Linked DNA regions of Homo sapiens. The protein of the gene in region 2 interacts with the protein of the main gene of each other region in a pairwise test. Each region holds a gene or a part of one and is shown on either strand. Other genes may lie near its edges. The genes, in order: NUTF2, LENG1, CCDC102B and USHBP1.

Region 1 (7,056 bases), on a different chromosome or scaffold from region 2:
CAACAAGCCCTGTGAAGCTGGTATGATTATCTTCACTTTATAGACAAGGAAACAAAGACTCCAAGAGGTTAAGAAAGAATTTAAGACCACAAAAGGCCACTGGCATAGCCAGCATTAGAATGTCCACAAAACTGGCCGAGATGGGGCCGGGCACAGTGGCTCATGCCTGTAAACCCAGCACTTTGGGAGGCCAAGGCAAGTAGATCACCTAAGGTCAGGAGTTTGAGACCAGCCTGGCCAACATGATGAAACCCCATCCCTATAAAAAATACAAAAAATTGGCCATGTGTGGTGGCAGGCGCCTGTAATCCCAGCTACTCCGCATGCTGAGGCAGGATAATTGCTTGAACCCAGGAGGCAGAGGTTGCAGTGAGCCAGGATCACGCCACTGCACTCCAGCCTGGGCAACGAGAGCAAAACTCCGACTCAAAAAGGAAAACAAAAGCAAAAAAAAAAAAAAACTGGGCCAGGGATGGTGGCTCACGCCTGTAATCCCAGCACTTTGGGAGGCCGAGGCAGGTGGATCATGAAGTCAGGAATTCAAGACCAGCCTGGCCAAGATGGTGAAACCCTGTCTCTATTAAAAATATAAAAATTTGCCAGGCGTGGTGGTGGGTGCCTGTAATCCCAGCTACTCAGGAGGCTGAGGCAGAGAATTGCTTGAACCTGGGAGGTGGAGGTTGCAGTGAGCTGAGATCACACCACGGCACTCCAGCCTAGGCGACAGAGCGAGACTGTCTCAAAAAACAACAACAACAAAAAAAAACTGGCCGAGATGCAAACAGCTGAGAGCCAATGTGGAGTAGCAGAAAGCACCTAAGTGACAAAATCAGGTGTTACAAGAACATGTCCATACACCTGTCCACCTTCTTCAGGGACGTCCAGATTGGCCACATCGTAACAGTGGGTGAGTGCCGGCCCCTGAGCAAGACAGTACGCTTCAACGTGCTCAAGGTCACCAAGGCCGCTGGCACCAAGAAGCAGTTCCAGAAGTTCTGAGGCTGGACATCTGCCCACTCCCCGCAATGAAATAAAGTTATTCTCATTTCCCCCATCCCCCCCCCCCGCCAAAAAAAAATCGGGTGGCAAGGAATGCAGCCCAGGCCTTGTCTTCCCCTATGAAATCAGCAAGCTCCATGGAGCCTCAGAATGGAAGAACCTGAGCACCTACTCAGCAGGTCAAAGCAGCTTTACACCTTAGGACAACTGAGAATTTGCATTCTCCTAGTCCTGAAACCACCTGCAAGTGGAACCAGTATCTCCACACAGAGCTCTTTCCTGGGGCAGCAAGCTTTCCAGTTTCTGCCCTCGGGAGACCCACTGGCTCTGATGGAATCATTCGAGACTTTAAGAAACAAACATTCCAAAATTCCCCCAGTTTACTGAGGACACTGGGACAAACAGCCCTCAGTTCCCAGGTACCCCAGAAACCCCTCTCTAATAAGGGTTCCCTATCCCCATAGCAGCCCTGTCTCCAGCCTGGGGGCTTAAGGAGCTGGCACACAGCAGGTACAGCAACAAATGAGTAACGCCCCAGACAATGAAAAGAAGTTCTTGGCCACTGGTCAGCCAGCAGTAGGAGCCCTGTGGCCCCTAGGCAGGCCACCCTGGGCCTCGTGTCCCTCTCCCTTGGCCACTAAGACACGTTCCCAGCCAAACCCAGACCCAAGCAAAGCATTCTGCCCAGGAGGGCACACTCCAGCTGATAGGGTGAGGAAAAAGAGGGTGAATAATATCACATGACCTAAGTCACTCCAAGGATAATCCATACACTGCTGGCTCCCCGAGGGAGGGACTCAAGAATTCCTGCCATATATGATCAAAGGAAGAGAGAATCACAGAATCACAAAGCCAGGAAAGGGGTAGCCAACTCAAACTGAACTGCAAACACACAAACATCATTCTCAAATGCCCTATCAAAACATTAATTAAAAAAAAAAACAAACCAGCACCCAGCACAAGGTTCGGCTCAACCTCAGCTTAAAGAAATCCTGCCCAACTTTTTTTTTTAAAGACAGAGATCTCCCTTTGTCGCCCAGGCTGGAGTGCAGTGGCGCGATCTTGGCTCACCGCAACCTCCGCCTCCCAGGTTCAAGCAATTCTCTTGCCTCCCGTGTAGCTGGGATTACAGGTACCTGCCACCATGCCCTGCTAATTTTTTGGAATCTTGGTAGAGACGGGGTTTTGCCATATTGGCCAGGTTGGTCTCAAACTCCTGACCTCAGATGATCCACCCACCTTGGCCTCCCAAAGTGCTGGGATTACAGGTGTGAGCCTCTGTGCCCGGCCAAGAAATCATGCCCAACTTTCAATGTCTATTCTGTGGAAAACTTTTAGGATTCACTCCCCTTGCCCCAAAAGGACTATTCCTCTGTCCTGGAGGCCTCAACGAAAATGGTCTGAATTGGATTCTAAAACAAGCGCTATTGGTATTTCCAAAGTCCCTGCTGTCTCCTGTTTCCCTCTGTAAGCCCCCAGGCAAGGGCCATCTGTTGAAGGAACATCCAAGGAGCCTCCCTGACCAGGTCTGCTGAACCTCCCACCTCTGTGGAGAATTCCTGTCTGGTGCCTGGGAAGATGCCCTGATGGGTACCACCACAGGAACAACTATTGGGCACTTAAAGTGACCATAGGAGGGTCTCAGTGAAAGGAGGAGAAGCCACAAACCCATGCTCCAAGCAGGGGACTAGAAGGCCTCGCACAGGCCAGGCAAGCAGTGGCTCACGCCTGTAATCCCAGCATTTTGGGAGGCCAAGGCGGGCAGACCAAGAGTTCAAGAGATCAAGATCATCCTAACCAACATGGTGAAACCCCATCTTTACTAAAAATACAAAATTTAGCTGGGCGTGGTGGCGCGTGCCTGTAGTCCCAGCTACTTGAGAGGCTGAGGCAGGAGAATTGCTTGAACCTGGAAGGCAGAGGCTGTAGTGAGCTGAGATCATGCTACTGCACTCTAGCCTAGGTGACAGAGCGAAACTCCATCTCAAAAAGAAGGCCATGCACAACAGGCCAGGCGTGGTGGCTGTTCCCTATAATCCCAGTACTTGGGAGGTTGAGGCAGGAGGATCACCTGAGCTCAAGAGTTCTGAGACCAGCCTGGGCAACACAGTGAGATCCCGTCTCTACAAGAAGTTGTAAAACTTGGCTGGGCACAGTGGCTCACATCTGTAATCCCAGGACTTTGGGAGGCTGAGGCAGGAGGATTGCTTGAGCCCAGAGTTCAAGACCAGCCTGGGCAAGATAGTGAGACTTTTGTCTCCACAAAAACTAAAAAATAGAATATAAAAATTAGCAGGTGTGGCCAGGCACAATGGCTCATGCCTGGAATCCCAGCACTTTGGAAGGCTGAGTGGGCAGATCACAAAGTCAGGAGTTCGAGACCAGCCTGGCCAATATGATGAAACCCTGTCTCTACTAAAAATACAAAAATTAGCCAAGCATGGTGGCAGGAGCCAGTAGTCCCAACTACTTGGGAGGCTAAGGCAGGAGAATCTCTTGAACCCAGAAGGTGGAGGATGCTGTGAGCCGAGATCGTGCCACTGCACTCCAGCCTGGGAGACAGAGTGAGACTCCGTCTCAGAAATAATAATAATAATTAGCCAAGCGTGATGGTGCGCACCTGTAGTCCCAGCTACTCAGGAGGCTGAGGTGGGAGGACTGCTTGAGCCCAGGAGGTCAAGGCTGCAGTGACCTGAGATGGCACCAACTGCACTTTAGCAGTGCCACAATCACAGCTCACTGCAGACTTGAACTTCTGGGCTGAAGTGATCCTCTTGCCTCACCTCCCAAGTAGCTGGGACTACAGGCACCCACCACCATACCTGGCTGGTTTCTATTTATTTAATTTATTTTAAAGACAGGGTCTCACTGTTGGTAAAAGAGTGAGACCTTATCTCATTAAAATAAAATAAAATAAAATAAAAAGGCTGCTGATGTACCCTAAGAAAAACTTTAAAAAGAAAGAAAAAAAGGGCCGGGAGCGGTGGCTCATGCCTGTAATCCCAGCACTTTGGGAGGCCAAGGTGGGTGGATCACCTGAGTGAGGTCGGGAGTTCGAGACCAGCCTGACCAACATGGAGAAACCCCATCTCTACTAAAAATACAAAATTAGCCAGGCGTGGTGGCACATGCCTGTAATCCCAGCTACTAGGGAGGCTGAGGCAAGAGAATCGCTAGAACCCAGGAGGCAGAGGTTGCAGTGAGCCGAGATCACGCCATTGCACTCCAGCCTGGGCAATAAGAGCGAAACTCTGTCTCAAAAAATAAAAAAATAAAGAAATAAAATAAAGAAAAAAAGGCCAGGCATGGTGGCTCAAGCTTATAATCCCAGCACTTTGGGAAGCTGAGGTGGGCGGATCGCCTGAGGTCAGGAGTTTGAGACCAGCCTGGCCAACATGGCAAAACCCCATCTCTACTAGAAATATTAAAATTAGCCGGATTATACCGGCAGGCGGGTATAATCCCAGCCACTCGGAAGGTTGACACAGGAGAATTGCTTGAACCCGGAGGGCGGGGGTTGCAGTGAGCCGAGACTGCGACACTGCACTTGAGCCTGGGCAAGAGTGACACTTCACTCCAGCCTGGGTGAAAAAAAAAAAAAAAGAAAAAAAGATAATAGTGTTTTGTTAAGGGAAACCTAGCCTTTTTTTTGGAGACAGGGTCTTGCTAGAGTGTCCCCAGGCTACAGTGCAGTGGCATGATCATAGCTCACGGTTCCTTGACCTCCTGCAGCCTCTTGAGCAGCTGGAACTACAGGTATACAACACCACAACCACACTGGCTATTTTTTTATTTTTCTTTTGTAGAAATGGGTATTGCTATGTTGACAAGGCTAGTTTTGAACTCCTGGCCTCAAGCAATGCTCCAGCTTCAGAGCTGGTGCTGAATCCTAGAATTTTTGATATAAGGTGGCTTCTAGTTATGAATTTTTTTTTTTCAAGATGGAGTTTCGCTGTTGTTGCCCAGGCTGGAGCGCAATGGCACAGTCTCAGCTCACTGCAAGCTCCGCCTCCCAGGTTCAAGCGAGTCTCCTGCCTCAGCCTCCTGAGTAGCTGGGATTACAGGCATGCACCACCACGCTCAGCTAATTTTCATATTTTTAGTAGAGACAGGGTTTTTCCATGTTGGTAAGGCTGGTTTTGAACTCCTGACCTCAAGTAATCCACCCACCTCAGCCTCCCAAAGTGCTGGGATTACAGGCGTGAGCCACTGCGCCCAGACTTGTTCTGAAATTTGAAAATTCTGTGTCTCCAGGGTGGAAACATCACACACCGGGGCCTGTCCTGGGGCGGGGGTAGCGGGGAGGGATAGCATTAGGAGATACACCTAATGTAAATGACGAGTTAATGGGTGCAGCACATCAACATGGCGTTATGTATACATATGTAACAAAACTGCAAGTTGTACACATGTACCCTAGAACTTAAAGTATAATAATAATAAAAAAAACAAAATTCTGGTCTCCCTTGTTTTTTGAGACAGGGTCTCACTCTGTCACCAGGCTGCAGTGCAGTGGCACAATCTTGGCTCACTGCAACGTCCGCCTCCCTGGTTCAAGCGATTCTCCTGCCTCAGCCTCCCAAGTAGCTGGGATTACAGGCACCTGCCACCATGCTCAGCTAATTTTTGTATTTTTAATAGAAACAGAGTTTCACTATATTGGCCAAGCTGGTCTCCAACTCCTAACCTCGTGATCCGCCCACCTCGCCCTCCCAAAGTGCTGGGATTACAGGCATGAGCCACCGCACCCTGCCTATTCTGTGTCTCTCTTAAGTAATTATTCCCCTCCCAAACCACCAACTCCAAAGGCAACGGAATAAAACAAGACATGGCTCAGAGAGAAGAGATGGGCTCGGCCAGGTGCGGTGGCTCACACCTGTAATCCTAGCACTTTGGGCAGCCAAGGCGAGTGGGTCACTTGAGGTCAGGAGTTCAAGACTAGCCTGGCCAATATGGTGAAACCCCATCTCTACTAAGAATACAAAAATTAGCTGGGTGTGGTGGTGGGCACCTGTAATCTCAGCTACTCGGGTGGCTGAGGCAGGAGAATTGCTTGAACCCAGGAGGCGGAGGTTGCAGTGAGCTGAGATTGCACCACTGCACTCCAGCCTGGGCAACAGAGCGAGGCTCTGTCTCAAAAAAAAATAGTGATAGGCAGATAGGCTCCTATACACGAAGGGACATAATTTTGAGCTAATTGAGAACTGAGGCATCTTGTATCCTGCCTCATCCTTGTGCGGCAATATCCCAACCACCGCATGCCAGGTCCCACTTCCAAGTCAGCCCTACATGAATAGAGGATGCAGATAGATCCTGGAGAACCTCAGGCCACTTCTCTTATATCTGAGACCTAGATGGCCCGCCAAGTTCCAGAAACATTTAACGAATTCTCAGGATCAGGATGCCTAGCAATGGCTAGCTGACCTCAGACAAAGAGGTTACAGGGAACGGCCAGGCGCGGTGGCTCACGCCTGTAATCCCAGCACTTTGGGAGGCCAAGGCGGGTGGATCACGAGGTCAGGAGATCGAGACCATCCTGGCTGACATGGTGAAACCCTGTCTCTACTAAAAACACACAAAAAATTAGCCGGGCGTGGTGGCGGGTGCCTATAGTCCCAGCTACTCGGGAGGCTGAGGCAGGAGAATGGCGTGAACCCGGGAGGCGGAGCTTGCAGTGAGCCGAGATCGCGCCACTGCACTCCAGCCTGTGAGACAGAGTACGACTCCATCTCAAAAAAAAAAAAAAGAAGTTACAGGGAACTTCTAGAGGTTGGAATGAGAGGGAGGGACCTGAATTCCTCCTACTCTTGAGTAACGTTGGAGAAGGAAAAGTATCTTTTTGTCCCTGAAGAAAACCCTTGTGATCACTGGGCAATTGTTCACATCTGTAATCCCAGCACTTTGGGAGGCTGAGGTGGGAGTATCGCTTGAACTCAGGAGTTTGAGACCAGCCTGGGCAACATATGGAGATGACATCACTGCAAAAAATAAAAATAAGGCCGGACGTGGTGGCTCACGCCTGGAATCCCGGCACTTTGGGAGGCCGAGACGGGCGGA
Region 2 (7,784 bases):
GGTGGTCGCGCTCCTGGGGGCAGCCTTCTATGGCGTCTACTGGGCTACGGGGTGCACCGTGGAGCTGCAGGTGCGGACGGTCTTGGAAGAGGAAGCCAGGGGGTCCTGGAACCTACATTTCCAACGGTGGAGGGAGGGGACGGAAGTTTGGGATGCCAGAGATCTTAGAGAGGAAGTATGGGAGAGGGTATGTTCGGACCCTGGACTTAGGGATTTTAAAGGAAAAAGAGAGGCTGGGCGCGGTGGCTTACACCTGTAATCCCAGCACTTTGGGAGGCTGAGGCGGGCGGATCACGATGTCAGGAGTTCCAGACCAGCCTGACCAACATGGTGAAAAACAGTCTCTACTAAAAATACAAAAATTAGACGGGCGTGGTGGTGGGCGCCTGTAATCCCAGCTACTCAGGAGGCTGAGGCAGGAGAATCACTTGAACCCGGGAGGCAGAGGTTGCAGCGAGCCGAGATCGCACCGCTGCATTCTAGGCTGGGTAACAGAGCGAGACTCTGTCTCAAAAAAAAAAAAAAAGAAGAAGAAGAAGAAGAGGCCGGGGGGAGGACCTTAAGCTTGGCTCCTCCAGGACCCCAAGCCTCTACTCATGGTCCATCCCGCTCCCAGGAGATGCCCCTTGTCCAGGAGTTGCCACTGCTGAAGCTTGGGGTGAATTACCTTCCGTCCATCTTCATCGCTGGGGTCAATTTTGTGCTGCCGCCCGTGTTCAAGCTCATTGCTCCACTGGAGGGCTACACTCGGAGTCGCCAGATCGTTTTTATCCTGCTCAGGTTCCAGCCTCACGGGGATGGCTGGGAATGATGAAGGGTGGGGGCGGTCAGAGGGATGTTGGCGCTGACAGGTAAGACACGGAAATCCTGCTGATACCGAATCCAGGGATTCAAATCCTGACTCTGTTGGCCAGGTGCAGTGGCTCACACCTGTAATCCCAGCACTTTGGGAGGCCGAGGCTGAGGTCAGGAGTTCGAGACCAGCCTGACAAACATGATGAAACCCCGTCTGTAGTAAAAATACGAATATTAGCCCGGCGGTAGTGGCTTCTGTAGTCCCAGCTACTCGGGAGGCTGAGGCAGGAGAATGGCTCGAGCCTGGGAGGTGGAGGTTGCAGTGAGCTGAGATCGCGCCACTGCACTCCAGTCCGGGTGACAGAGTGAGACCCTGTCTCAAAAAAAAAAAAAAAAAAAAGAAAGAAAGAAAGAAAGAAATCCTGATTCTGTCACTGGGCCTCAGCTTCATCTGTGAGATGGGTTGAATGCGGGCGCGTTCCACTGAGAAGGGAACTGCCACATGGTGGGTACCGGGTCAGGGCCCATTCTCTGCCTTCCCCCCTTCAGGACCGTGTTTCTTCGCCTCGCCTCCCTGGTGGTCCTGCTCTTCTCTCTCTGGAATCAGATCACTTGTGGGGGCGACTCCGAGGCTGAGGACTGCAAAACCTGTGGCTACAATTACAAACAACTTCCGGTGAGAACGGCATGGGTGTGCGTGGGACTCTTGGGTCCCTGAAGGAAAGATGGAGCTGGGTGGGTCCAGACTCTTGGTTTGGGCGGAGAGGGGAGCTTGGGGTGCTGGAACACTCTCCCAAGGGTATGAAAGTTTGAAAAACGAGGACCCCCAGAGAAAGTATTGACAGGGTCTCATAGGCTTGCGATGTGGAGACTCGGACGCGTGGGCCTCCAGGTGCCCGGGTCCCGAGTTCTTTCTGATATATTTCTTCCTTCTTCAGTGCTGGGAGACTGTCCTGGGCCAGGAAATGTACAAACTTCTGCTCTTTGATCTGCTGACTGTCTTGGCAGTCGCGCTGCTCATCCAGTTTCCTAGAAAGTGAGAGCCCCGCCCCTTGCTGTGGCCCCGCCCCTCTAGGACGAGGCCGTGCCCCATCGCGCTGTTCTTTTCACCGCGCACCTTTTTACCATTCCCGCCTCTGCCTGCTCCCTTTGCTTGCCCTAGGTCCGCAGATCTCCCCGCTCCCCGCCCTTGTTTTAGTGGGTTACTTCCCTCTGGCCCCGACGGCGGCGACATCTGGGTCCCTTCTAGTCCTCAGGACCCGCCCTCTGGACACACCCCCTCCACGTGGAGTCCTGAAAGTCCCGCCCCCCCCCCCCCCACCACCAATACGCATGCTTCCTATTGGCGGGCGGGGCGGTGGAGGCGTGGAAACTCCAGGCCGCCACTCCCCTGACTCCGGCCCGGCCCCGCCCCGTCCTTCAGGCTCCTCTGTGGCCTCTGTCCTGGGGCGCTGGGTCGTCTGGCGGGGACCCAAGAGTTCCAGGTGCCCGACGAGGTGCTGGGGCTCATCTACGCGCAGACGGTGGTCTGGGTGGGGAGTTTTTTCTGCCCTTTACTGCCCCTGCTTAACACGGTCAAGTTCCTGCTGCTTTTCTACCTGAAGAAGGTAAGGGGTAGGGGGGACCCTTGGGTCTGAGGCAGGAGGTATTGGGGCCCGCACTCCTGGGTCAAGGGCAAGGAAGATCCTGGGGGCCTGGATTACTCGGTCCTGAGAGAGGAGGGGGTTGGAGGACAGACTACTGCATCTGAGAGGAGGGGTCTAGGGCATTCTGACTTATATGTCTGAGGATCTGGGGACTCAGACTCCGGGGTCCTAGATGAGGAAGGGGCTCAGACTCCTGGTTCGGAAAAAAGGAGAGGCAGGTAGGCCGGGTGCAGTGGCTCACGCCTGTAATCCCAGCACTTCGGGAGACTAAGGCGGGTGGATCACCTGAGGTCAGGAGTTTGAGACCAGCCTGGCTAACATGGCAAAACCCCGTCTCTACTAAAAATACAAAAAAAATTAGCCGGGCTTAGTGGCAGGCGCCTGTAATCCCAGCTACTCAGGAGGCTGAGGCAGGGGAATTGCTTGAACCAGGGAGGTGAAGGTCGAAGTGAGCCAAGATCGTGCCACTGCACTCCAGCCTGGGCGACAGAGCGAGACTCCGTCTCAAAAAGAGAAAACAAACAAACAACAACAACAGCAAAACAAATTAGCCGGGAGTGGTGGTGCACACCTGTAATCCCAGCTACTCGGGAGGCTGAGACACGAGAATAGCTTGAACCCGGGAGGGGAGGCTGCAGTGAGAGCCACTGCACTCCAGCCTGGGCGACAGAGCGAGACTCTGTCTCAAAAAAAAAAGCCTGGGCGACAGAGCGAGACTCTGTCTCAAAAAAAAAAAAAAAAAAAAATGGAGGCACAGACTCTTGTGTTTCAGAGCCCTTTTCTCCGTGCCTTCCCCCACCAGCTTACCCTCTTCTCCACCTGCTCCCCGGCTGCCCGCACCTTCCGGGCCTCCGCGGCGAATTTCTTTTTCCCCTTGGTCCTTCTCCTGGGTCTGGCCATCTCCAGCGTTCCCCTGCTTTACAGCATCTTCCTGTAAGTGCGAGAGGCTCCCGCCTCTCTCCCTCCCTCTCTCCCCATTCAGTGTTCAGACTCCTGGCACTATGTGAGCCCAGCCTGTCTTGACTTCAGGATCCCGCCTTCTAAGCTGTGTGGTCCATTCCGGGGGCAGTCGTCCATCTGGGCCCAGATCCCTGAGTCTATTTCCAGCCTCCCTGAGACCACCCAGAATTTCCTCTTCTTCCTGGGGACCCAGGCTTTTGCTGTGCCCCTTCTGCTGATCTCCAGGTGAGACGGCCCAGACTTCTGGGTCTGGGTTTGAATGCGTGTGATCTGGGGGCCACCACCTGCGTCCAAGAGAGGAGAGGCTTGGGCGTGGGAGCAGGCAACGTACTGAGTCTGAGGGAGGAGGCCTAGGCTCCTGGACTGCTGGGTCCGAAGGAGGAGGTGGGCGGGACGTAGGACTCCTGGATCTGAAGGCGGAGGGGCTGGGAGACTGAACTCCTTGAGCCCAGACGAGGAGGGGCTTAGGCGTCCACATCCCTGGCTTCGAAGGAGCCAGACGTTTGGATATAATGGAAGAGCGTGTCAGGAGTGGCTTCCGTTCCTGTCTCCTTCAGCATCCTGATGGCGTACACTGTGGCTCTGGCTAACTCCTACGGACGCCTCATCTCTGAGCTCAAACGTCAGAGAGAGACGGTGAGCCAGGCGGGTCCCTGAGAGGGCCCCTGGGGAACATGGAAAGGGGTTGGGGAAGAGGATTGTCTCACCTCCACCTCTCTTTGCCCCAGGAGGCGCAGAATAAAGTCTTCCTGGCACGGCGCGCTGTGGCGCTGACCTCCACCAAACCGGCTCTTTGACCCCCGCAGCCCACGTCCCGCTTTCAGACCCCAGGCCCATTGTAAGCCTAGGTCACAACATCTGTAAACTAGGAGAACTGGAGAAGACTCCACGCCCTTCCAGCTTTGGTATCTGGAGATTTCCAGGGCCCCTCGCCGCCACGTCCCTGACTCTCGGGTGATCTTCCTTGTATCAATAAATACAGCCGAGGTTGCTGAGCGCGCTTTGAAATCTGCGTCCTGAAGGTGGGGGCAGGGCTACAGCGGGGCAGGAGCCAATCAAATGTACGGGCATGTTTGTCGGTGCAGAGCGCTCTTCCGCAAGGAGACTTGTCGGTCATGTCGGCCAATCGACGGCCGCATCTGGTAGCATCAGGGGCGGGCCAACTTATGATTGGTTCAGATCTGTGACAAGAGGCGGTTGCTAGGGGATACCACGAGCCGAACGCCTAGCATTCGCTGTGATAAAGGGCGTCTCAGCCAATCACCTGTCGCTACAGGCCAGGGGGCCGTACCAACTAATTCGGAACCAATCCGCGGTCGAAGTAGGGACAAGAAAAAGGGGGGCATCCTCTCGCCAATCGGAAGTGCAAAGAGGCGGGCGTGCCAGTCCCTGGACAGCTACGACGCCATGAATATCTTGCCCAAGAAGAGCTGGCACGTCCGGAACAAGGACAATGTCGCCCGCGTGCGGCGTGACGAGGCCCAGGCCCGGGAGGAGGAGAAGGAGCGTGAGCGGAGGGTGCTGCTGGCTCAGCAAGAGGTAAGCTCGGAAGCCGGCAGGGCGGCGCTCCGGGGCCCAGCGCGCAGGCGCCGCGGTTGGGGGCCGGAAGCGGAGGCGTTGCGCAGGCTCAATGTGCCCCGTGTGAAATTCGGGACCAGGCGCCGATCCCACTTTCGAGGACGTTGCCCCGCAAACCTTGTGCCCACTTCCACGAAACCTTCCTTGATCTCGCCCTCGTCTTAGTTTTTCCCCCACTGATGTATTTCACATGGCTGGAACAGTGTCTAGCACAAAAGAGAAGCTTAACATTTAATGAATCCGTGAACCCTTGGACAGTTCAAGGAAATTCGGATCACTTTTTAGTTTGCCTGCACAGCCTATTTATTGAGCATCTACTGTATGCTAACTACATGCCGTGCACCTGACTTGCGGAATCCCCAATAAGCACTGTTCGTTCTTAGAGGGGCACTGTCATCTCTGTTGCACGAAGTGAGATGGCTTCAGTGAGGGGAAGGCACATTTTAAGGAGAGGCGGACAGCCAGGCTCCACGCCATCGGGCGAGCCCTTTCGTGCACCGCCCCCTAGACACATACACACAAACACGGGCTTTCCGTATGGCTCTTTAAATCTGTTTGGTGTACACCCAACTTTCATTTCCTTAGCTAGTCTGATCCTCCGCCGTGGGTGGGAGGTAGTCTAGGTTTTTAGAATCTCAGTAGGCTGCTGAGCGCTGTTTGAAATCCGCGTCCTGAAGGCAGGGGACAGGGCTTCAGCAGACTTGGGGTAGTCACTTGGAGCCATGGCTAGAATTCAGATCGTCTGGCCTAATGCATACCTTTATGGCTGTTTTAATTGTCTCACTTGAGGTTAGGAACCCCTTTGGTTTAGGCCAGGGACCTCCTCCCATACATCCTTGATGACCCGTGGTTTACTATTTGAAAGGGAGTTTACAAAACCCAGGCGTTGCCTCATCTGCCTACCCTCACCCCCAGCTAGGACAGGTGCCTCTTTTAGGCGCCTAGTGCTCCCTTTCTCATAACCCCAGCACCCTGGACTGCCATTTTCTGTGGTGGGCACCAGACTCACAGTTCTTGAATTACCTCTAGGTTCTGAATGTCCTGCCTATAACTTTCTCCCCAGGCCCGTACAGAATTCCTACGGAAGAAAGCCAGACATCAGAACTCACTGCCTGAGCTTGAAGCAGCAGAGGCGGGAGCCCCAGGTTCTGGCCCTGTGGACCTGTTTCGGGAGCTGCTGGAGGAAGGGAAAGGAGTGATCAGAGGCAATAAAGAGTACAAGGAAGAAAAGCGACAGGAGAAAGTAAGCTGGCCTCACCCACTTCATCAGAGGGGCCATGAATCGAGTTGGAGGGAGGGGGCACTTTAGCCATTGGTTGTGACCAAGGTCAAACAAGAGTGAACACACAGAATTTAGGACCATACCAAGGCATGACACTCAAAAAGCGTTGGCTATTGCCGTCTGGGCGCCCACAGGGGTTGGAGGTAGATGCTAGAGGTCCCCAGCTGCTGGGCAAACCGCTCAGTTCTCCAAACTGGAGGAGTCTCAAACCTGATGGGCTTTTAAAAATTTAAATCAGCCGGCTGTGGCTCACGCCTGTAATCCCACCACCTTGGGAGGCTGAGGCGGGTGGATCACCTGAGGTCAGGAGTTCAAGACCAGCCTGGTCAACATGGTATCTCTAAAAATACAAAAAAAATTAGCCGGGCATGGTGGTGCGCGCCTGTAATCCCAGGGAGGCTGAAGCAGGAGAATCGCTTGACCCAGGAGGTGGAAGCTGCAGTAAGCCGAGATTGCGCCACTGCACTCCAGCCTGGGTGACAGAGCGAGACCCCATCTCAAAACAATCAAACAAAAAGTGAATCAATCGCCTCTTGCTTTTTGGCTAAGATCAAGTGTAAAAGGTACATCAGTGGCTGTGCATGGTGGCTCACGCCTGTAATCCCAGCACTTTGGGAGGCCAACGTGGGTGGATCACCTGAGGTCAGAAGTTCAAGACCAGCCTGGCCAAACATGGCAAAACCCCGTCTCTACTAAAAATACAAAAATTAGCTGGGCATGGTGGTGTGTGCCTGTAATCCCAGCTACTCGGGGGGCTGAGGTAGGAGGATTGCTTGAACCTGGGAAGCAGAGGTTGCAGTGAGCCGAGATCGTGCCACTGCACTCGAGTCTGGGCAACAGAGCGAGACTCCATCTCAAAAAAAAGAGGTACATCAGCTCTTGTCATTTATCTGCTGTCTCTGGACTTGCTGACCCCACCCATCGCTCCTCTGCTTTGCTTGATCCCTTCAGGCTTCTCTTCAAGTCTCTCTGCAAAGATGCCTGCCTCTGAACACTCAAGTGGCTCCACTTGTCCCCTCCTTCCCCTGCTGTTACTGTACCTGCTACTGTCCCCCCAGGGGGAGCTTTGCCTCTGTTTGTCTTCCATCCCCAGCACCTGGTCCAACTGGTTCATAACAAGCCTTAGATACCTGTTCGCTTAGATACCTGTGTCAGGGAGACACACCTGACACCTTGAAAGATTATATCACATCTCTTGTATTTCCTGGCCCCCTCAGGAGAGGCAAGAGAAAGCTCTGGGCATCCTGACATACCTGGGCCAGAGTGCAGCGGAGGCACAGACTCAACCCCCTTGGTACCAGCTACCCCCAGGGCGAGGGGGCCCCCCGCCCGGCCCAGCCCCAGATGAGAAGATCAAGAGCCGTCTGGACCCTCTGCGGGAGATGCAGAAGCATCTGGGGAAGAAGAGACAGCACGGCGGTGATGAAGGCAGTCGCAGCAGAAAGGAAAAGGAGGGGTCTGAGAAGCAGCGACCCAAGGAGTAAGAAGACCCCACCTCGGCAGACCAGGGCCCAGACCTTCAG
Region 3 (6,880 bases), on a different chromosome or scaffold from region 2:
CGTGTACGGCAAAAAGATACTCCTTCAGTAAAGCCTACTTAATGATAGTATGATTCTAAACTAGTAGGCAGTATGTTCATAAAATGATAGCATAGTTACCATCATGTATACATTGAACAAAAAAACCTCGTTGTTATGAAATAAGCTATAATTTTTATTTCATTGAAAAAAAAGAAGAAGAAAATGAATGTTATCCCAGATACTAGTTCTACTTTGAGAAGAAGTAATGTCTTTAAGGTTTGGATATATGAAGGAAAACATGTTAATAAATAAGTTCTATTCTTTTTTACTGTGAATGTACTGTATTTCACACTATCTATTACAATGTGAATTTTATTTATGCTTTTCACCTATTGAAATGAAACTTATACAATGCCTTTATTTGATAATAACTTGGTCATTCCATAGTTTTAAGAGTATTTGGTCGCTGAGTGTTCGTTGATACCATGTATCAAAAAGAAACAGAGGAAAGTCAGTACATCCCCAGTGTTATTCCTGGCCACCTCACACATCTCATTTGTGAATAGGTAATATTCAGTGCAAATCAGTGATGACATTTTCTTTGAGAATGCAAAAGATACCTTCTCTAAGTAGATTTAAGAAAATGTAAGAGAGAGAAAAGCATAAGTGTTGAATCTGAGGGCCGCTAATTTAAATGTAAAAATTACCCCTTATTTGCAGCGTCAGTCTCTTCTCTCAATTCCCAAAGGAAAAGTGTGGCCCAACTGATAGAACAGTAATTCGTCTGGATTTATAGAATATCGGAATGGATCTTTGGGCTGTTGTCTCACGACCTCCTCCCTGCACCCTAAAATCCCAGTGTCCACTTCAAACCATTCTGCTCGACTTCTGCCAGATTCACATTCCTAGAATACCAGCACAACATCGTGGAAATAGCTCTGGAGCCAGAAAGACATTATTTGAAATTCTGGTTCCCTCACTTTCTTTATCTGTGGCTTTAAGCAAATCATTGAACGTTTCTGAACAGCAGGTTCCTTCAAGTGCAAAATGAAAATAATGTGTAAAATAATGTTCATTTTCTTGCAAAGCTATCAAAATTGTGGATATGTATGTAAATCACCTTGCAAGCAGAAAATGCTATTATGTGTTGGCAAAATGATGATGATGATGATTATGGTAAAGATGATGAAAAGAGGCACAGATACTCCACCTCTTTTCAGAAACTTGCAATTGTCCCCTTTGTATGATATGTAAAGGCCACATTTTTCTGTGTGCAATGTTAAGATGCTCTATCAATTTTTCCTGTTCTATGTATTGAGTACAACGTCTGATACTCACAAAGGTATATTTTTTCTGCTCCAATCAGATAAATTACTCACCATTCTTTTATGCTCTATGCTAATTTGTGTTCAAAACCCTTTTTGCCAATTACTTCTTCAAAGTAGAGTATTCCTCTTGCTTTCAGCACCTATCCAAGTTCCACTAGTTTTTCAAGACTAAGTTCAAGAAGTTGAACTTTTCTTTAAAGCCTCTGGCATCTCTTTAGGACTCACATACCTGCTAAAAAGGGAATTTCTGAATATTTTGGCATTATGGCAGAATTCAATTGGTCTTGTAATATCAGCATAAGAGATATGACGACCTGAGAGCATTTCTTGTATTTTAAGAATTACAGCCATTGTTTTGTAACTGTAATAATTAGATGAAACATTCATAAATTACCTTGAAGCCAAACCCATAGTGAGGCCCAGAAACAATGTCCCAGTGATCAAGCAATTATTGAATCCAATGATAACATATGAAGGATGCAAAAGAGAGACAATGAAATTATCTATGATTTCATAAGAACATAGGATATTTTGGAAAATAAAGCAATTCACATAAAGCATTTTTCTGAATATATTCAAATAGGTCACACAAACCTACACAGATATTGTATCGCTAACTTATAAATCTTCTTTCTAATTTATTGCTTTCATTAAAATATGAAATAGAATTCAAGAATATTTACTGGATATATAAAAATATTTATTGGCAATAACATATTTTACTAACAAGAGAATATTTACTCAAAAGTTGTAATAACACCATTTCCCATGAAAATTATTAGCAAAAACACATTCACATTATTTTAGAAAACAGAAAAACTGGTATTGATGTAAATAAGAATATCAATAAATATTTTATATATTTTGGTCCTATGTTACTGACATATTTCTAATTATATTTTTTGACGAATCTTTCTTATATTTATATTTAATAAATGTACTCACTTGACATTCAATTGATAATTTATCTTTGCAGAAAACGTAAGCAAATGCTTCCCAAAGGTTTCCAGAGATTTTTTTTCAGTTTTATAATTTACTTCTATATAGCTAAGCATTACTTTTTATTATGCACAGGATTTTATTATTTTATTCTGTATCCCTGTCTCCTCCACACTATACAGGTAGCATGTAAAGAAATCAATATTCATGCTAAGTTTGAAATATACTTTCCATTAACGAATACAAGAATTTAGCATGAAGACTCAACAATTGAAAAGAATTCAAGGTACATGAGGCATAGATAGGAGGATTTCCATAACAATTTTACTTTTTTACTGTAAGAATATAGATTACTTCAAACACAATGACTAATTCACATTCATTTGGAACAATGAAACAAAATTTTAATATCAACATATACTATTACTGTCTAAATGTAGAGTCGAAATTCTTACCTGAGTTTTGCTTAGTATACAGTTATTTTTTAAAGACAGGAAATGTATGACAAATTGTCAGGATAATAACACCCACAGTGGAAAAATGAAAGGGGAAAGGAAGGAATCACTTTAAAAAGAAACTCCAAATCCTTCTGCTTCCCAGCTCTACAGTAGTTTTGCTCTGCATCTTGTAAGCAACTGTCTTTGCTCTGAGAACAACACATGCTGTACCTCAGCAGGAAAATATAAAAATTAAATAGAAAACCACAAGGTTATTAAACACTCTTACCCTCTGGGCTTGCTGGGCTGCTCCAGTGTCTCAGTTGCAGCCACATGTGTAAACAACAGAATTTCCTGCATCCTTTTCTCATCCGTACAGTTCTGGAGTCCTAGCCAACAGGATTATTTCCAGCATTAAGGGCACTCCACACAAACTCAAAAAAGATTCCCATTGGTTGTGAAGTTTTATTGAAACCACTACCACAACCCCCTCTTTGGATCACCATTGAGCCAACCAAAATAAAACCATTTTTAATGTTCCCTAAGTATGGTTATCCAAAGCTTTCCATACAACCATTTGAAACCTGTACTGTGGATGAAAAAGAAAAAGACACCCACGCCTTGATCCACAAGTGTTCTTAATGTTTAATTACAACAGTATAACTTGTAATAATAATAGAAAAACTAAAATAGCAAAGCAAAAAAAAAAAAAAGCCCAGGAAGTACCTATCTGAAAAATATTTAAAAGGAAATTATACTGCACATTACAGGAACAATATAAAATATTCATCCAATCTGATTTGCATTAGATTGCACAAAAGCAAAAGAAATCATATTTAATAAAAGATTTGAGTATACAAATCATGAAACAATAACTGCATGTCAAAACCCTTGATTGTGGTCACATTGGCAGGAATTGTGAGCTGTAGTCCCCGGGGTGCCCAGTGAAAGCTCTCTGGCCCCTTTCCCTGGGGAAAAAGAATATGAAGTAGCTTTCCATTGACATGACTCAGCTGTCAGGAAGTGTTCTGATGGGGGTTGAGGGGGGAGGCGAGAGATCACATAAAAAAGAGCTTCTCTGGTTGAAACTAGCAGCAAAAAAATGTCCAAAGTAAAAAAGAAAAGTCAAAAGGTAACAGGATAGCCTTGCTCCTTTTAAGTAGCAAAAAAACAACATTTGAAATTTAGGCAATAAATGTCTTCAAATTATTTTATTTTTCACCCTTCCCTAATTTGTAGGCTTATTACGGTGTTATCATCTATCTCTACTTAACATTCTTTTCCCACTTACTTTCTGATGCAATGGAAAAGGTGGCCATCTTCCTGTATAAAGCCAATTGACCCATCGAGCTAAACTTAATCATGATTCTCTCTCCTCTATCTTTGAACGTTCCCTCCTGTCCGGATTTTCCCCACGTGATGTTAAATACCATACATTCTCTAGTCAATTTCATGTATGCCAATGAACTTTACTTTTAATTCAGTCATTTTCACTTTCAGGTACCATTCTTTCTGTCATGGCCAAATGATTGAAAGTTCTCCAGCCAAGAATTTTATTTAGTCTTGCATCCACCTGATTTTAATTCATCAAAGTGACAATACACACACACACACACACACACACACATGCATGTACATAAATATTCTATTTATTTTTAATTTTTCTAACTCACCTCAATCCTTCTAGTTGACATCTACACAGCCTTTCATACTGTTCACAACCCTGCCCACATGAAGACATCTCTTGTCTTGGCATAACACTCTCCTGGTTTTCCTCTTGACCTCTTTTGCTGGCCCTTCTCACCCTCTTTGATGATGCCTCATCCTCCATCCATCCTTTGGTGTGCATCACATATGTTCTTAGATAAATCTACATATAAATGGTATATTCTCTCTCTGGATAAAGCCACCCATCCTCATAGTTTAAATTACCATCTTTCTTTTTAGATGACTCCCAAATATCTACTTTTAGACCCAATGACTGTCTGAATTTTCAATACTCATATTTGTCAGCCCACTATACCCCTCAACTAGAAAATTACACAGATATGGCATCAGCTTATCTAAACTGAAATCATCATCTCTCCATGGACCTGCTGTGTTATCTATGTAAATGTCAACCCAGTTTTACAGTTTCCCAAAGAAAAATTCTGGAAGTCATCCTTGACTCCTTCTATTCTATATCAAATCCAGCACTAGTTCCTTTTGATTATACTTCAATAATTTGCCCAGTCTTCTTTTCTCACTGCCACTACTCTGGTTCAGACAACCATCATGATCTTTCTAGATCACTGCAGTGTCTCTCTGTCTCTTAAATTGTCTTTCTTCTCCCAGCTTTCTTCTGCTCCATCTTTAAAAAGATACAGTAGTCTATTTCCGGTACTTATGCACTTGAAGTCCATGAAGGTTTTTTAATCTTTTTGTCAACTCCCTTCTTCATAATACATTGGCTTTTCTTGGCTTCTAAACCACAACTTTTCTAGATTATGTTTTCATCTTTCTGACCATGTCATACTTTTATCCCCTCTCTTATTACTTTTCTTTCCTTTCAATGGTGGAACACCTTCAAGAGGCCATCATTGGTCCTATTCTTATTTCACATTTCTGTCTAGGTAAGCACATCTGTTTTTGAGGCTTCTTTTGCCACACATATTTGGTGAGTTGAATTGTGTCCTCTAAGAAGATATATTGAAATCCTAACTTCCTGTACCTATGAAGATGATTATTTGGAAATACGGTCTTTGAAGATGTAATCAGGTTACACTGAGGCCATACTGGGTGAGGGGGAACCATATTCCAAGGACTTGTATCCTCATAAGAAGAGGGAAATTTAGACAAAACGCACAGGGGAGAATGTTGTGAGAGAGACAGAGACAGCAATTGGAGTGATAGGTCTACAAACCAAGGATTGCCAACCATCACCAAAATTAGGAAGAGTCAAAAAAGGGTTCTTCCCTAGGGCTTTCAAAAGAGTATTGCTGACTGACATCTTGATTTTGGACTTCTGTCCTTCAGAACTATGAGATCAATTGTTTTAAGCCACAAACTTGTGATATTTGTTACAGCAGCCCTAGTGAACTAATAGACATATAATTCTGAAATATATATGGCCTTTCCTTAATAGTTTCTAAAGCTTCAGATCTGTATTTCCAAAGTCTAATGAAATATTCACTAGGAGCCATTTAAATCTTTCAATAATCTCCAATCATCAAAGCTCTTATATTTCTTCCGAAGACTCTACTGTATCTTGTAATCTCAATCTAGCCCCATCCAGTCTCTCAATCTAGAAATCTCTTTGCTATTCCTAAGTTCTTACTCTTCTTCACCATTCAAATTTAATAACCCGTCTTTACATTAAAACCTGAAACCTCTCTCTTCACTTTATCTCCTTCTGTATCTTTGCATTTGTTTTTGTCTTACCACAACATTTTTTTTTTTTTTTTTTACTGGCGAGTTTACAAATTAATGACCAGTAAAATCTGACTATATATGGAGGGCACTGTCTTACTTGCAGCTTTCTCATGTGAAGGCTCTTTTTGCCCCACACAGGCCACAACCATTAGGGTCAGAAAATGGAGAAGGTGTCCTACTTCATCCTTATTGCCAAGTCTGCCTCACAAATTATTTGTTCATTGATAGCATGGGACCTCTCAGAATAAAAAACAAAGTTATCTATGGTCTCCATCCTAGTTTCAAAGGGTACATCGACACCATGGTTATAATACCCCTGTGCACACACACCTCCATTATCCTAACACTCCATATCATATAACAATCACTTGGGGGCATATGATAAAGAGACGAGAAAAATTCAGCCGTGAGGTTTCCAAAATTTGTTGGCAAGTTTATAATGTCTTGAGGTACTCAGCACACATCAATGAAGGCTATTTTTTTTTAGTGGATTCCAGTTTCATTCTACATATTACATCCACCCTGTGGGTTCTGATATTTACCTACCCAGTATCCTTTCTCCCTTTCCTCCCTACAAAACAATTTTTTATTTTTGTTTGGAGCAACAATGTGGTCATTTTTTTTGAAGCCTATGTTACCAAGCCTCCCATACAAATATATTTGGCTGTGTGGTGCAGTTTTGCCAATGAAACATAAGTGGAAATCTAATGGGTTTAGAAAACTTTTGTATTTCTAATGCCAGTCTGTTGACTTCTTTCTCTTTTTTCATTCCTTGAACAAGACAAGGAGGCTGGAGATGGGGAA
Region 4 (7,056 bases), about 37 Mb from region 2:
TTGCTTGACACAATTCTGCAGCTACCAGGGAGGCTAAGGCACGAGAATCGCCTGATCCCAGGAGGTGGAGGTTGCAGTGAGCCGAGATTTCACCACTGCACTCCAGCCTGGGTGACGGAGTGAGACTCTGTCTCAAAAAAAAAAAAAAATAATAATAATGCTGGGCACGGTGGCTCACGCCTGTAATCCCAGCACTTTGGGAGGCCGAGGCACAGATCACGAGGTCAGGAGATCGAGACCATCCTGGCTAACACGGTGAAAACCCGTCTCTACTAAAAATACAAAAAATTAGCCGGCGTGGTGGCGGGTGCCTGTAGTCCCAGCTACTCCGGAGGCTGAGGCAGGAGAATGGCGTGAACCCGGGAGGCGGAGCTTGCAGTGAGCCGAGATCCCGCCATTGCACTCCAGCCTGGGCGACAGAAGAAAACTCTTTCTCAAAAAAAAAAAAAAAAGAAAGAAAGAAAGAAAGAAAAAGAAAGAAAACTGAGGGTGGTGGGAGTAGGCCCTGGAGTGGCAGCATGACTGGCCTGTTCAAGAAACCCGAAGGAGGCCAGTGTGGCTGGAACACAGGGGGCAACAGGGAGAGTGTGGGGAGCCAGAACAGAACAGAGGGAGAACAAATGCAGATCGCGTAGGGCCTCGTGGGCTGCAAGGAGACGCTTGGGCTTTGCTTGGATTAAGGTGAGAGCCCTGGAGGGTTTTGAGCAGAGGAGGGGCATGCTCGACGCAGGTGTTCACAGGCGCCCTCTGGTGGCGGAGGTGAGGGTGGACTCCTGGAGAGCCAGGAGGCGACTTCATTGGTCCAGACATGCACGATGGTGGAGGTTGTAGAAGTGGAGAGATGCGGACGGATTCTGGGTGATGTGGCAGATGGAACTGACGTGTGAGCGTGAAGGCTAGAGAGAAGTCAAGGACAACTTCAGGCTTTGGGACCTGCTGGACTAGAAGGGAGAGATGGAGGAGCTACAGGGTAGGCAGGTTTGGCTGGGGGTGACCAGATCTCTTTAGCCCTTGATAAGCTCAAGTGTCCATGAGACATCCACGTGGGGTCCTCAAGGGAGCAGCTATATGTCTGAGTCCAGGGCTCAGAGGAGACAGCAGGGCAGAAGGGAGAAACTTGAGCATCCTTAGCACACAGGTGGCATTTAAAGCCATGTGGCTGCTGGGTGCATTGTCTCATGCCTGTAATCCCAGCACTTTGGGAGGCTGAGTCAGGAAGATCACTTGAGGTCAGGAGTTCAAGACCAGCCTGGTCAACATGGTGAAACCCCATCTCTACTGAAAATACAAATATTTGTCAGGCATGGTGGCAGATGCCTGTAATCCCAGCTACTCGGGAGGCTGAAGCAGGAGAATCACTTGAATCCGGGAGGCAGAGGTTGCAGTGAGCTGAGACTGTGCCACTGCACTCCAGCCTAGGTAACAGAGCAAGACTCCATCTCAAAAATAAAAATAAAAAAGCCATGTGGCTGAATGAGATATTGAGAGGGAAGCCCTCATCTTAGGCTGGTAGAAAAACTTTGGAGCCCAGTCCAGGGATTCATTTTTCCCCAGAGTGGGGCCCATTTTTCTGCTGGGAAAAATAAAATCCTCAGCAGCTGAGAAACATTCCCAAGGTCAGATAGTGAGATTTTTGGCAGGCTAAGTATCCAAGCCTCTTGCCTTCCAGCTAGGGTTCTTGCCACTTCCCCAAGAACAGGCCTTGGGGAGAGAGGGCTGGTGGTTGGTTTGAGCCCCTAGGCCTGACGTCCCCCTCATCTTTCCCAGGTTCAAGAGCTGCAGGATTCCCTCTTGAGGCTGGAGCCCTGCCCACATCTTTCCCACAACCAAGCAGGTGGCTCAGGCAGTGGTTCTAGCAGCTCTGAGGCAGACAGGGAACCCTGGGAGACTCAGGTGAGTGCGAGAAGTTCAATCCCATGGTCTTGATGTCCTTAGCCTTCAGGGGAATGAGACTCAAATCTTTGTCATGGGATCCAACAGCTTTGGGGTTGCAAAATGCCTACAATCCCAGGCTCTTGGTGACAATTGGGGTCAGTTATATCACTTCTTCTTGGCAGGACTCCTTCTCCCTGGCTCACCCCCTGCTTCGGCGCCTCCGCAGCCATTCCAGCACCCAGATCCTTGGGTCTCTTCCCAACCAGCCCCTCAGTCCTGAGATGCACATCATGGAAGCCCAGATGGAGCAACTCCGGGGGTAAGAGACTCAAATGCTGAGCTCATAAGGGCACAGGCACCTCCTCCAACTGAGTTATAAAGCCAGGAGTCTGAAGCTGCAACAGGAGGGAGGGAAAGGGTGGAAATTGAGGCCTGACTGCCTTAGAAGGCCTCTGACTTTCCCTCTTCCCCACCTTCGGGAACAGGAGCATTGAGAAGCTCAAATGCTTTAATCGTCTGCTATCAGCTGTGCTACAGGGATACAAGGGCCGCTGTGAAGGCCTCAGCATGCAGCTAGGCCAGCGGGAGGCTGAGGCCACAGCATTGCATCTGGCCTTGCAGTACAGGTCAGTGCACCCTGCCAGTGATGTCACCAGCTGGGGAGGGAGTGGGCTTTCTGAGGATGGCCCCAATCCACAGAACCCTCACTGGAGAGCACCTTCCCCACTTCAGAAATTAATTTTTTTTTTTGAGACAGAATCTCGCTGTGTTGCCCAGGCTGGAGTGCAGTGGTGAGATCTCAGCTCACTGCAACCTCTGCCTCCTGGGTTCAAATGATACTCATGTCTCAGCCTCCTGAGTAGCTGGGATTACAGGTGTATGCCACCATAGCCAGCTAATTTTTGTATTTTTAGTAGAGATGGGTTTCACCATGTTGGCCAGGCTAGTCTCGAACTCCTGACCTCATGATCCCCCCTACTGGGCCTCCTAAAGTGCTGGGATTACAGGTGTGAGCCACCTTGCCTGGCCCAGAAATTAACTTAAGGCAATTTTAGTTCAGGGTTGCTAAGGGAGTCTGCATGCTTCCAGAGCTGAGGGCAGTGGGGAGAAGAGGGGTTCAGGAGCAAGTGGGGACTGGCACCTATAGAGCAAGATGTAGCTAAGTGGATTTTTTTTTCTTTTTTCTTTCTTTTTTTTTTTTTTTTTGAGACAGAGTCTTGCTCTGTCACCCAGGCTGGAGTGCAGTGGTGCCATCTTGGCTCACTGCAACCTCCGCCTCCCCAGTTCAAGTGATTCTCCTGCCTCAGCCTCCTGAGTAGCTGGAACTACAGGTGCGTACCACCACACCTTGCTAATCTTTGTCTTTTTAGTAGAGACGGGGTTTCACCATGTTGGTCAGGCTGGTCTCGAACTCCTGACCTCAGGTAATCCTCCCGCCTCAGCCTCCCAAAGTGCTGGGACTACAGGTGAGGGCCATTGCACCCAGCCGAGCTGAGTGTCCTGAAGCACTCAGAACCAGTGTCCCACAGTGAACACTGTGAAGAGGCATACAGGGTTCTGCTTGCTCTGCGGGAGGCCGACTCAGGAGCAGGAGACGAAGCCCCCATGAGTGACCTGCAAGCAGCTGAAAAGGAAGCATGGAGGCTGCTGGCACAAGAGGAGGCTGCCATGGATGCAGGAGCACAGCAGAATCCACAGCCAAGGTACCCCCCTGGAACCCTGGGAACTGGCCTGGTTGAGGAGTGGGGTCTTGACTGGGGGATGGGGCTCCCAGAGCTCACCACGTTTCGGGGCTTGGTGTGGCTGTGTCCAGCAAGGTCGGTATGGAGCTCACTGTAGTTGGTTGACATGAGGCTCAACTGCAGTTGGCCTGTTGCTACTTGACAAAGTTGGCATGGTGGTTGACAGACATTGCAGTTGGCATGAAGATGAATGACAATGCCTACTGGTTAAAACTGGCACCCACAGCCGGGCACAGTGGCTCAAGCCTGTAATCCCAGCACTTTGGGAGGCCGAGGCAGGCAGATCGTTTGAGCTCAGTAGTTCAAGACCAGCCCTTGTAACATGGCGAAAGTCCTTCTCTACCAAAACTACAAACAAATTAGCTGGGCATGGTGGTGTGCCCGCGTAGTACCAGCTACTTGGGAGGCTGAGGTGGGAGGATGCCTTGAGTCTGGGAGGTGGAGGCTGCAGTGAGCTGAGATTGCACCACTGCACTCCAGCCTGGGTGACAGAGTGAGACCCTGTCTTTTTTTTTTTTTTTTTTTTTTTTGAGACAGAGTTTCACTTTTGTCGCCCAGGCTAGAGTCCAATGGTCCGATCTCGGCTCACTGCAACCTCTGCCTCCCGGGTTCAAGGGATTCTCCTGCCTCAGCCTCCCGAGTAGCTGGGATTACAGGCTCCCACTACCACACCCGGCTAATTTTGAATTTTTAGTAGAGACGGGGTTTCTCCATATTGGTCAGGCTGGTCTCGAACTCCTGACCTCAGGTGATCCACTTGCCTCGGCCTCCCAAAGTGCTGGGATTACAGGCGTTAGGCACTGCGCCCGGCCGCAGCTAATTTTTTATGAAGACGGATTCTCGGCCAGGCGCGGTGGCTCACGCCTGTAATCCCAGCACTTTGGGAGGCCGAGGTGGGCAGATCACAAGGTCAGGAGATCGAGACCATCCTGGCTAACACGGTGAAACCTCGTCTCTACTAAAAATCCAAAAAAAAAAAAAAAAATTAGCCGGGCGTGGTGGCAAGCGCCTGTAGTCCTACCTTCTTGGGAGGCTGAGACAGGAGAATGGCGTGAACCCGAGAGGTGGAGCTTGCAGTGAGCCGAGGTTATGCCACTGCACTCCAGCCTGGGCGACAGAGCAAGACTGCGTCTCAAAAAAAAAAAAAAAAAAGACGGATTCTCACTCTGTTGCCTATGCTGGTCTCAAACTTCTGGCTTCAAGCAATCCTCCCACCTCAGCCTCCCAAAGTGCTGGGGTTACAGGCATGCATCACCGCACCTGGCCACCATGTGGTCTTGATGGAAGGTGGTGCCTAGTGGGGTATGTTGGTGTGACAGGGACCACCAAAGATGGCATAGATTCCATCGTGGCCAGTGAGATGGAAGGTGATGGACCCTACCAGGATTGGCATGAACTTAACCCACCTATGCCTGCCAGTGTTGACATAGGCACCTTTTCTGTTTTCTATAGCCCTGAAGGCAGCAGTGTGGATAAGCCCACCCCACAGGAAGTGGCTTTCCAGCTCCGAAGCTATGTCCAGCGTCTCCAGGAGCGCCGTTCTCTAATGAAGATTCTCTCAGAGCCTGGCCCCACCTTGGCACCCATGCCCACTGTGCCCCGTGCAGAAGCCATGGTGCAGGCCATTCTGGGGACCCAGGCTGGCCCAGCTCTTCCCCGACTGGAGAAGACACAAATTCAGCAGGACCTGGTGGCCGCAAGGGTACAAATGGGCTGTGGCCACTGTGTCAGTCTTTCTTGGTGGGACAAAATCCTTTACTGAGGTCGGGGGACCAAGGAGCAAAGGAGAATTCTGCTGGGCTGAGTGCAGGCATTGTGAAGGGAGAATTGGAGCTGGGGTTTTGAGGGATTAATAGGAGTTTGTTTTCTGGGGTTCAGTTTCTCATTAGACTACAAATCTGGCTCTCCAAAATGCCCTTCCTATGGGAAGAGATGGGAGCAAAGAACACAATCTTGGGTTTGTAGCTTGGCATGAAAAACTTGAGGTTCTGGAGTTAGAGAAACTCCAGAAGCTTTGACAGAACTAATACTTGACCTATGTAAGCTACTTGCCCCTCTAGGAAATGCCATTTCTACAGCTGTAGCTTTTATGGGAGGAAGATATTTCCACCTCACAAGAACATGGTGAATGGTGAAGGTCCTAGTTTGTTTGTTTGTTTGTTTGTTTTTTGAGACGGAGTCTTGCTCTCACCCAGGCTGGAGTGCTGTGGCGCTATCTTGGCTCACTGCAGCCTCTGCCCCACTGCCGGGTTCAAGTGATTCTCCTGCCTCAGCCTCCCAAGTAGCTGGGATTACGGGTGTGCACCACCACACCTGGCTAATTTTTGTATTTTTAATGGAGACGGGTTTTCACCATGTTGGCCAGGCTCGTCTCGAACTCCTGACCTCAGGTAATCCACCCACTTTGGCCTCCCAAAGTGCTGGGATTACAGGCATGAGCCACTGCGCCTGGCCAAAAGTCACAGTTTTTGTCTGAATAGTCCTCAGTGGGTGCCTCTTGGGGCCTCAGTTTCCCTGCAGTTGACCGTAGAAGCATAAATTCTCTCCCCTCTCCTTGGTCCCACAGGAGGCCCTGGCGGACCTGATGCTTCGGCTGCAGCTGGTGCGGCGTGAGAAGCGGGGCCTAGAGCTGCGGGAGGCTGCCCTCCGAGCCCTGGGTCCAGCTCACGTGCTCCTGCTGGAGCAGCTGCGGTGGGAACGGGCAGAGCTCCAGGCTGGTGGGGCAAACAGCAGTGGCGGACATAGCAGCGGAGGTGGCAGCAGCGGGGACGAGGAAGAGTGGTATCAGGTGAGCTGCCCTGCCTGAACCTGGTAGGGGAGTAGCTTACTAATGAGAACATAGCCCTTGTCAATCACAGCCTTTTTTTTTTTGTTTTTTTTGAGACGGAGTTTGGCTCTTGTTGCCCAGGCTGGAATGCAATGTTGCAATCTCGGCTCACCACAACCTCCGCCTCCCAGGTTCAAGAGATTCTCCTGTCTCAGCCTCCTGAGTAGCTGGGATTACAGACACGCACCACCACATCTAGCTATTTTTTGTATGTTTTGTAGAGATGCAGTTTTGTAGAGTTGCAGTTCACCATGTTAGCCAGGCTGCTCTCGAACTCCTGGCCTCAAATGTTTCGCCTGCCTCCACCTCCCAAAGTGCTGAGATTACAGGCATGAGTCGCCGCACCTGTCCTTAATGCAGCTCTTTAAATCATCTCTCCTACCTCCAAGCCTTTGTATATTCTGTGTCCCTGCCAGGAACACCGGTCACTTCCCTCTTTGTGTCATAAAGTCCTCGACCTCCTGTAGATCTCAGCTTAGACATCACCTCCTCAAGGAAGCCCTCCTGGAGTGACTTCAGATGCGGTTTCCTGTTATTTATTTCCCTTATCACAGTGGTCCCAGCTACTCGGGTGGCTGAGGTGGGAGGATCACTTGAACCCGGAGTTGGAGG

Evidence for each region.
Region 1: the proteins of LENG1 (region 2) and NUTF2 interact in binary tests that used the Homo sapiens proteins (3 or more experiments, as listed by UniProt).
Region 3: the proteins of LENG1 (region 2) and CCDC102B interact in binary tests that used the Homo sapiens proteins (3 or more experiments, as listed by UniProt).
Region 4: the proteins of LENG1 (region 2) and USHBP1 interact in binary tests that used the Homo sapiens proteins (3 or more experiments, as listed by UniProt).

Annotation. Positions count from the first base shown.
Region 1 is NC_000016.10:67,849,898-67,856,953, reverse strand, and holds part of NUTF2 (nuclear transport factor 2), read right to left. Parts: intron 1-7,056. UniProt on the Homo sapiens protein: Mediates the import of GDP-bound RAN from the cytoplasm into the nucleus which is essential for the function of RAN in cargo receptor-mediated nucleocytoplasmic transport.
Region 2 is NC_000019.10:54,156,720-54,164,503, reverse strand, and holds the start of LENG1 (leukocyte receptor cluster member 1), read left to right. Parts: upstream 1-4,782; 5' UTR 4,783-4,808; coding exon 4,809-4,940; intron 4,941-6,042; coding exon 6,043-6,222; intron 6,223-7,478; coding exon 7,479-7,741; intron 7,742-7,784. Other genes in the region: voltage-gated chloride channel TMC4, read left to right, coding at 1-70, 617-780, 1,345-1,471, 1,734-1,831, 2,219-2,402, 3,244-3,374, 3,471-3,626, 3,959-4,037 and 1 more.
Region 3 is NC_000018.10:68,794,256-68,801,135, reverse strand, and holds the start of CCDC102B (coiled-coil domain-containing protein 102B), read right to left. Parts: upstream 3,057-6,880; 5' UTR 2,955-3,056; intron 2,866-2,954; exon of another isoform or gene 2,684-2,865; intron 1-2,683. UniProt on the Homo sapiens protein: During interphase, forms fibers at the proximal ends of centrioles to maintain centrosome cohesion. During mitosis, dissociates from the centrosome following phosphorylation to allow centrosome separation. Contributes to CROCC/rootletin filament formation.
Region 4 is NC_000019.10:17,254,734-17,261,789, reverse strand, and holds part of USHBP1 (harmonin-binding protein USHBP1), read left to right. Parts: intron 1-1,767; coding exon 1,768-1,893; intron 1,894-2,057; coding exon 2,058-2,194; intron 2,195-2,360; coding exon 2,361-2,501; intron 2,502-3,088; coding exon of another isoform or gene 3,089-3,194; exon of another isoform or gene 3,195-3,206; intron 3,207-3,317; exon of another isoform or gene 3,318-3,404; coding exon 3,405-3,578; intron 3,579-5,069; coding exon 5,070-5,319; intron 5,320-6,183; coding exon 6,184-6,405; intron 6,406-7,056.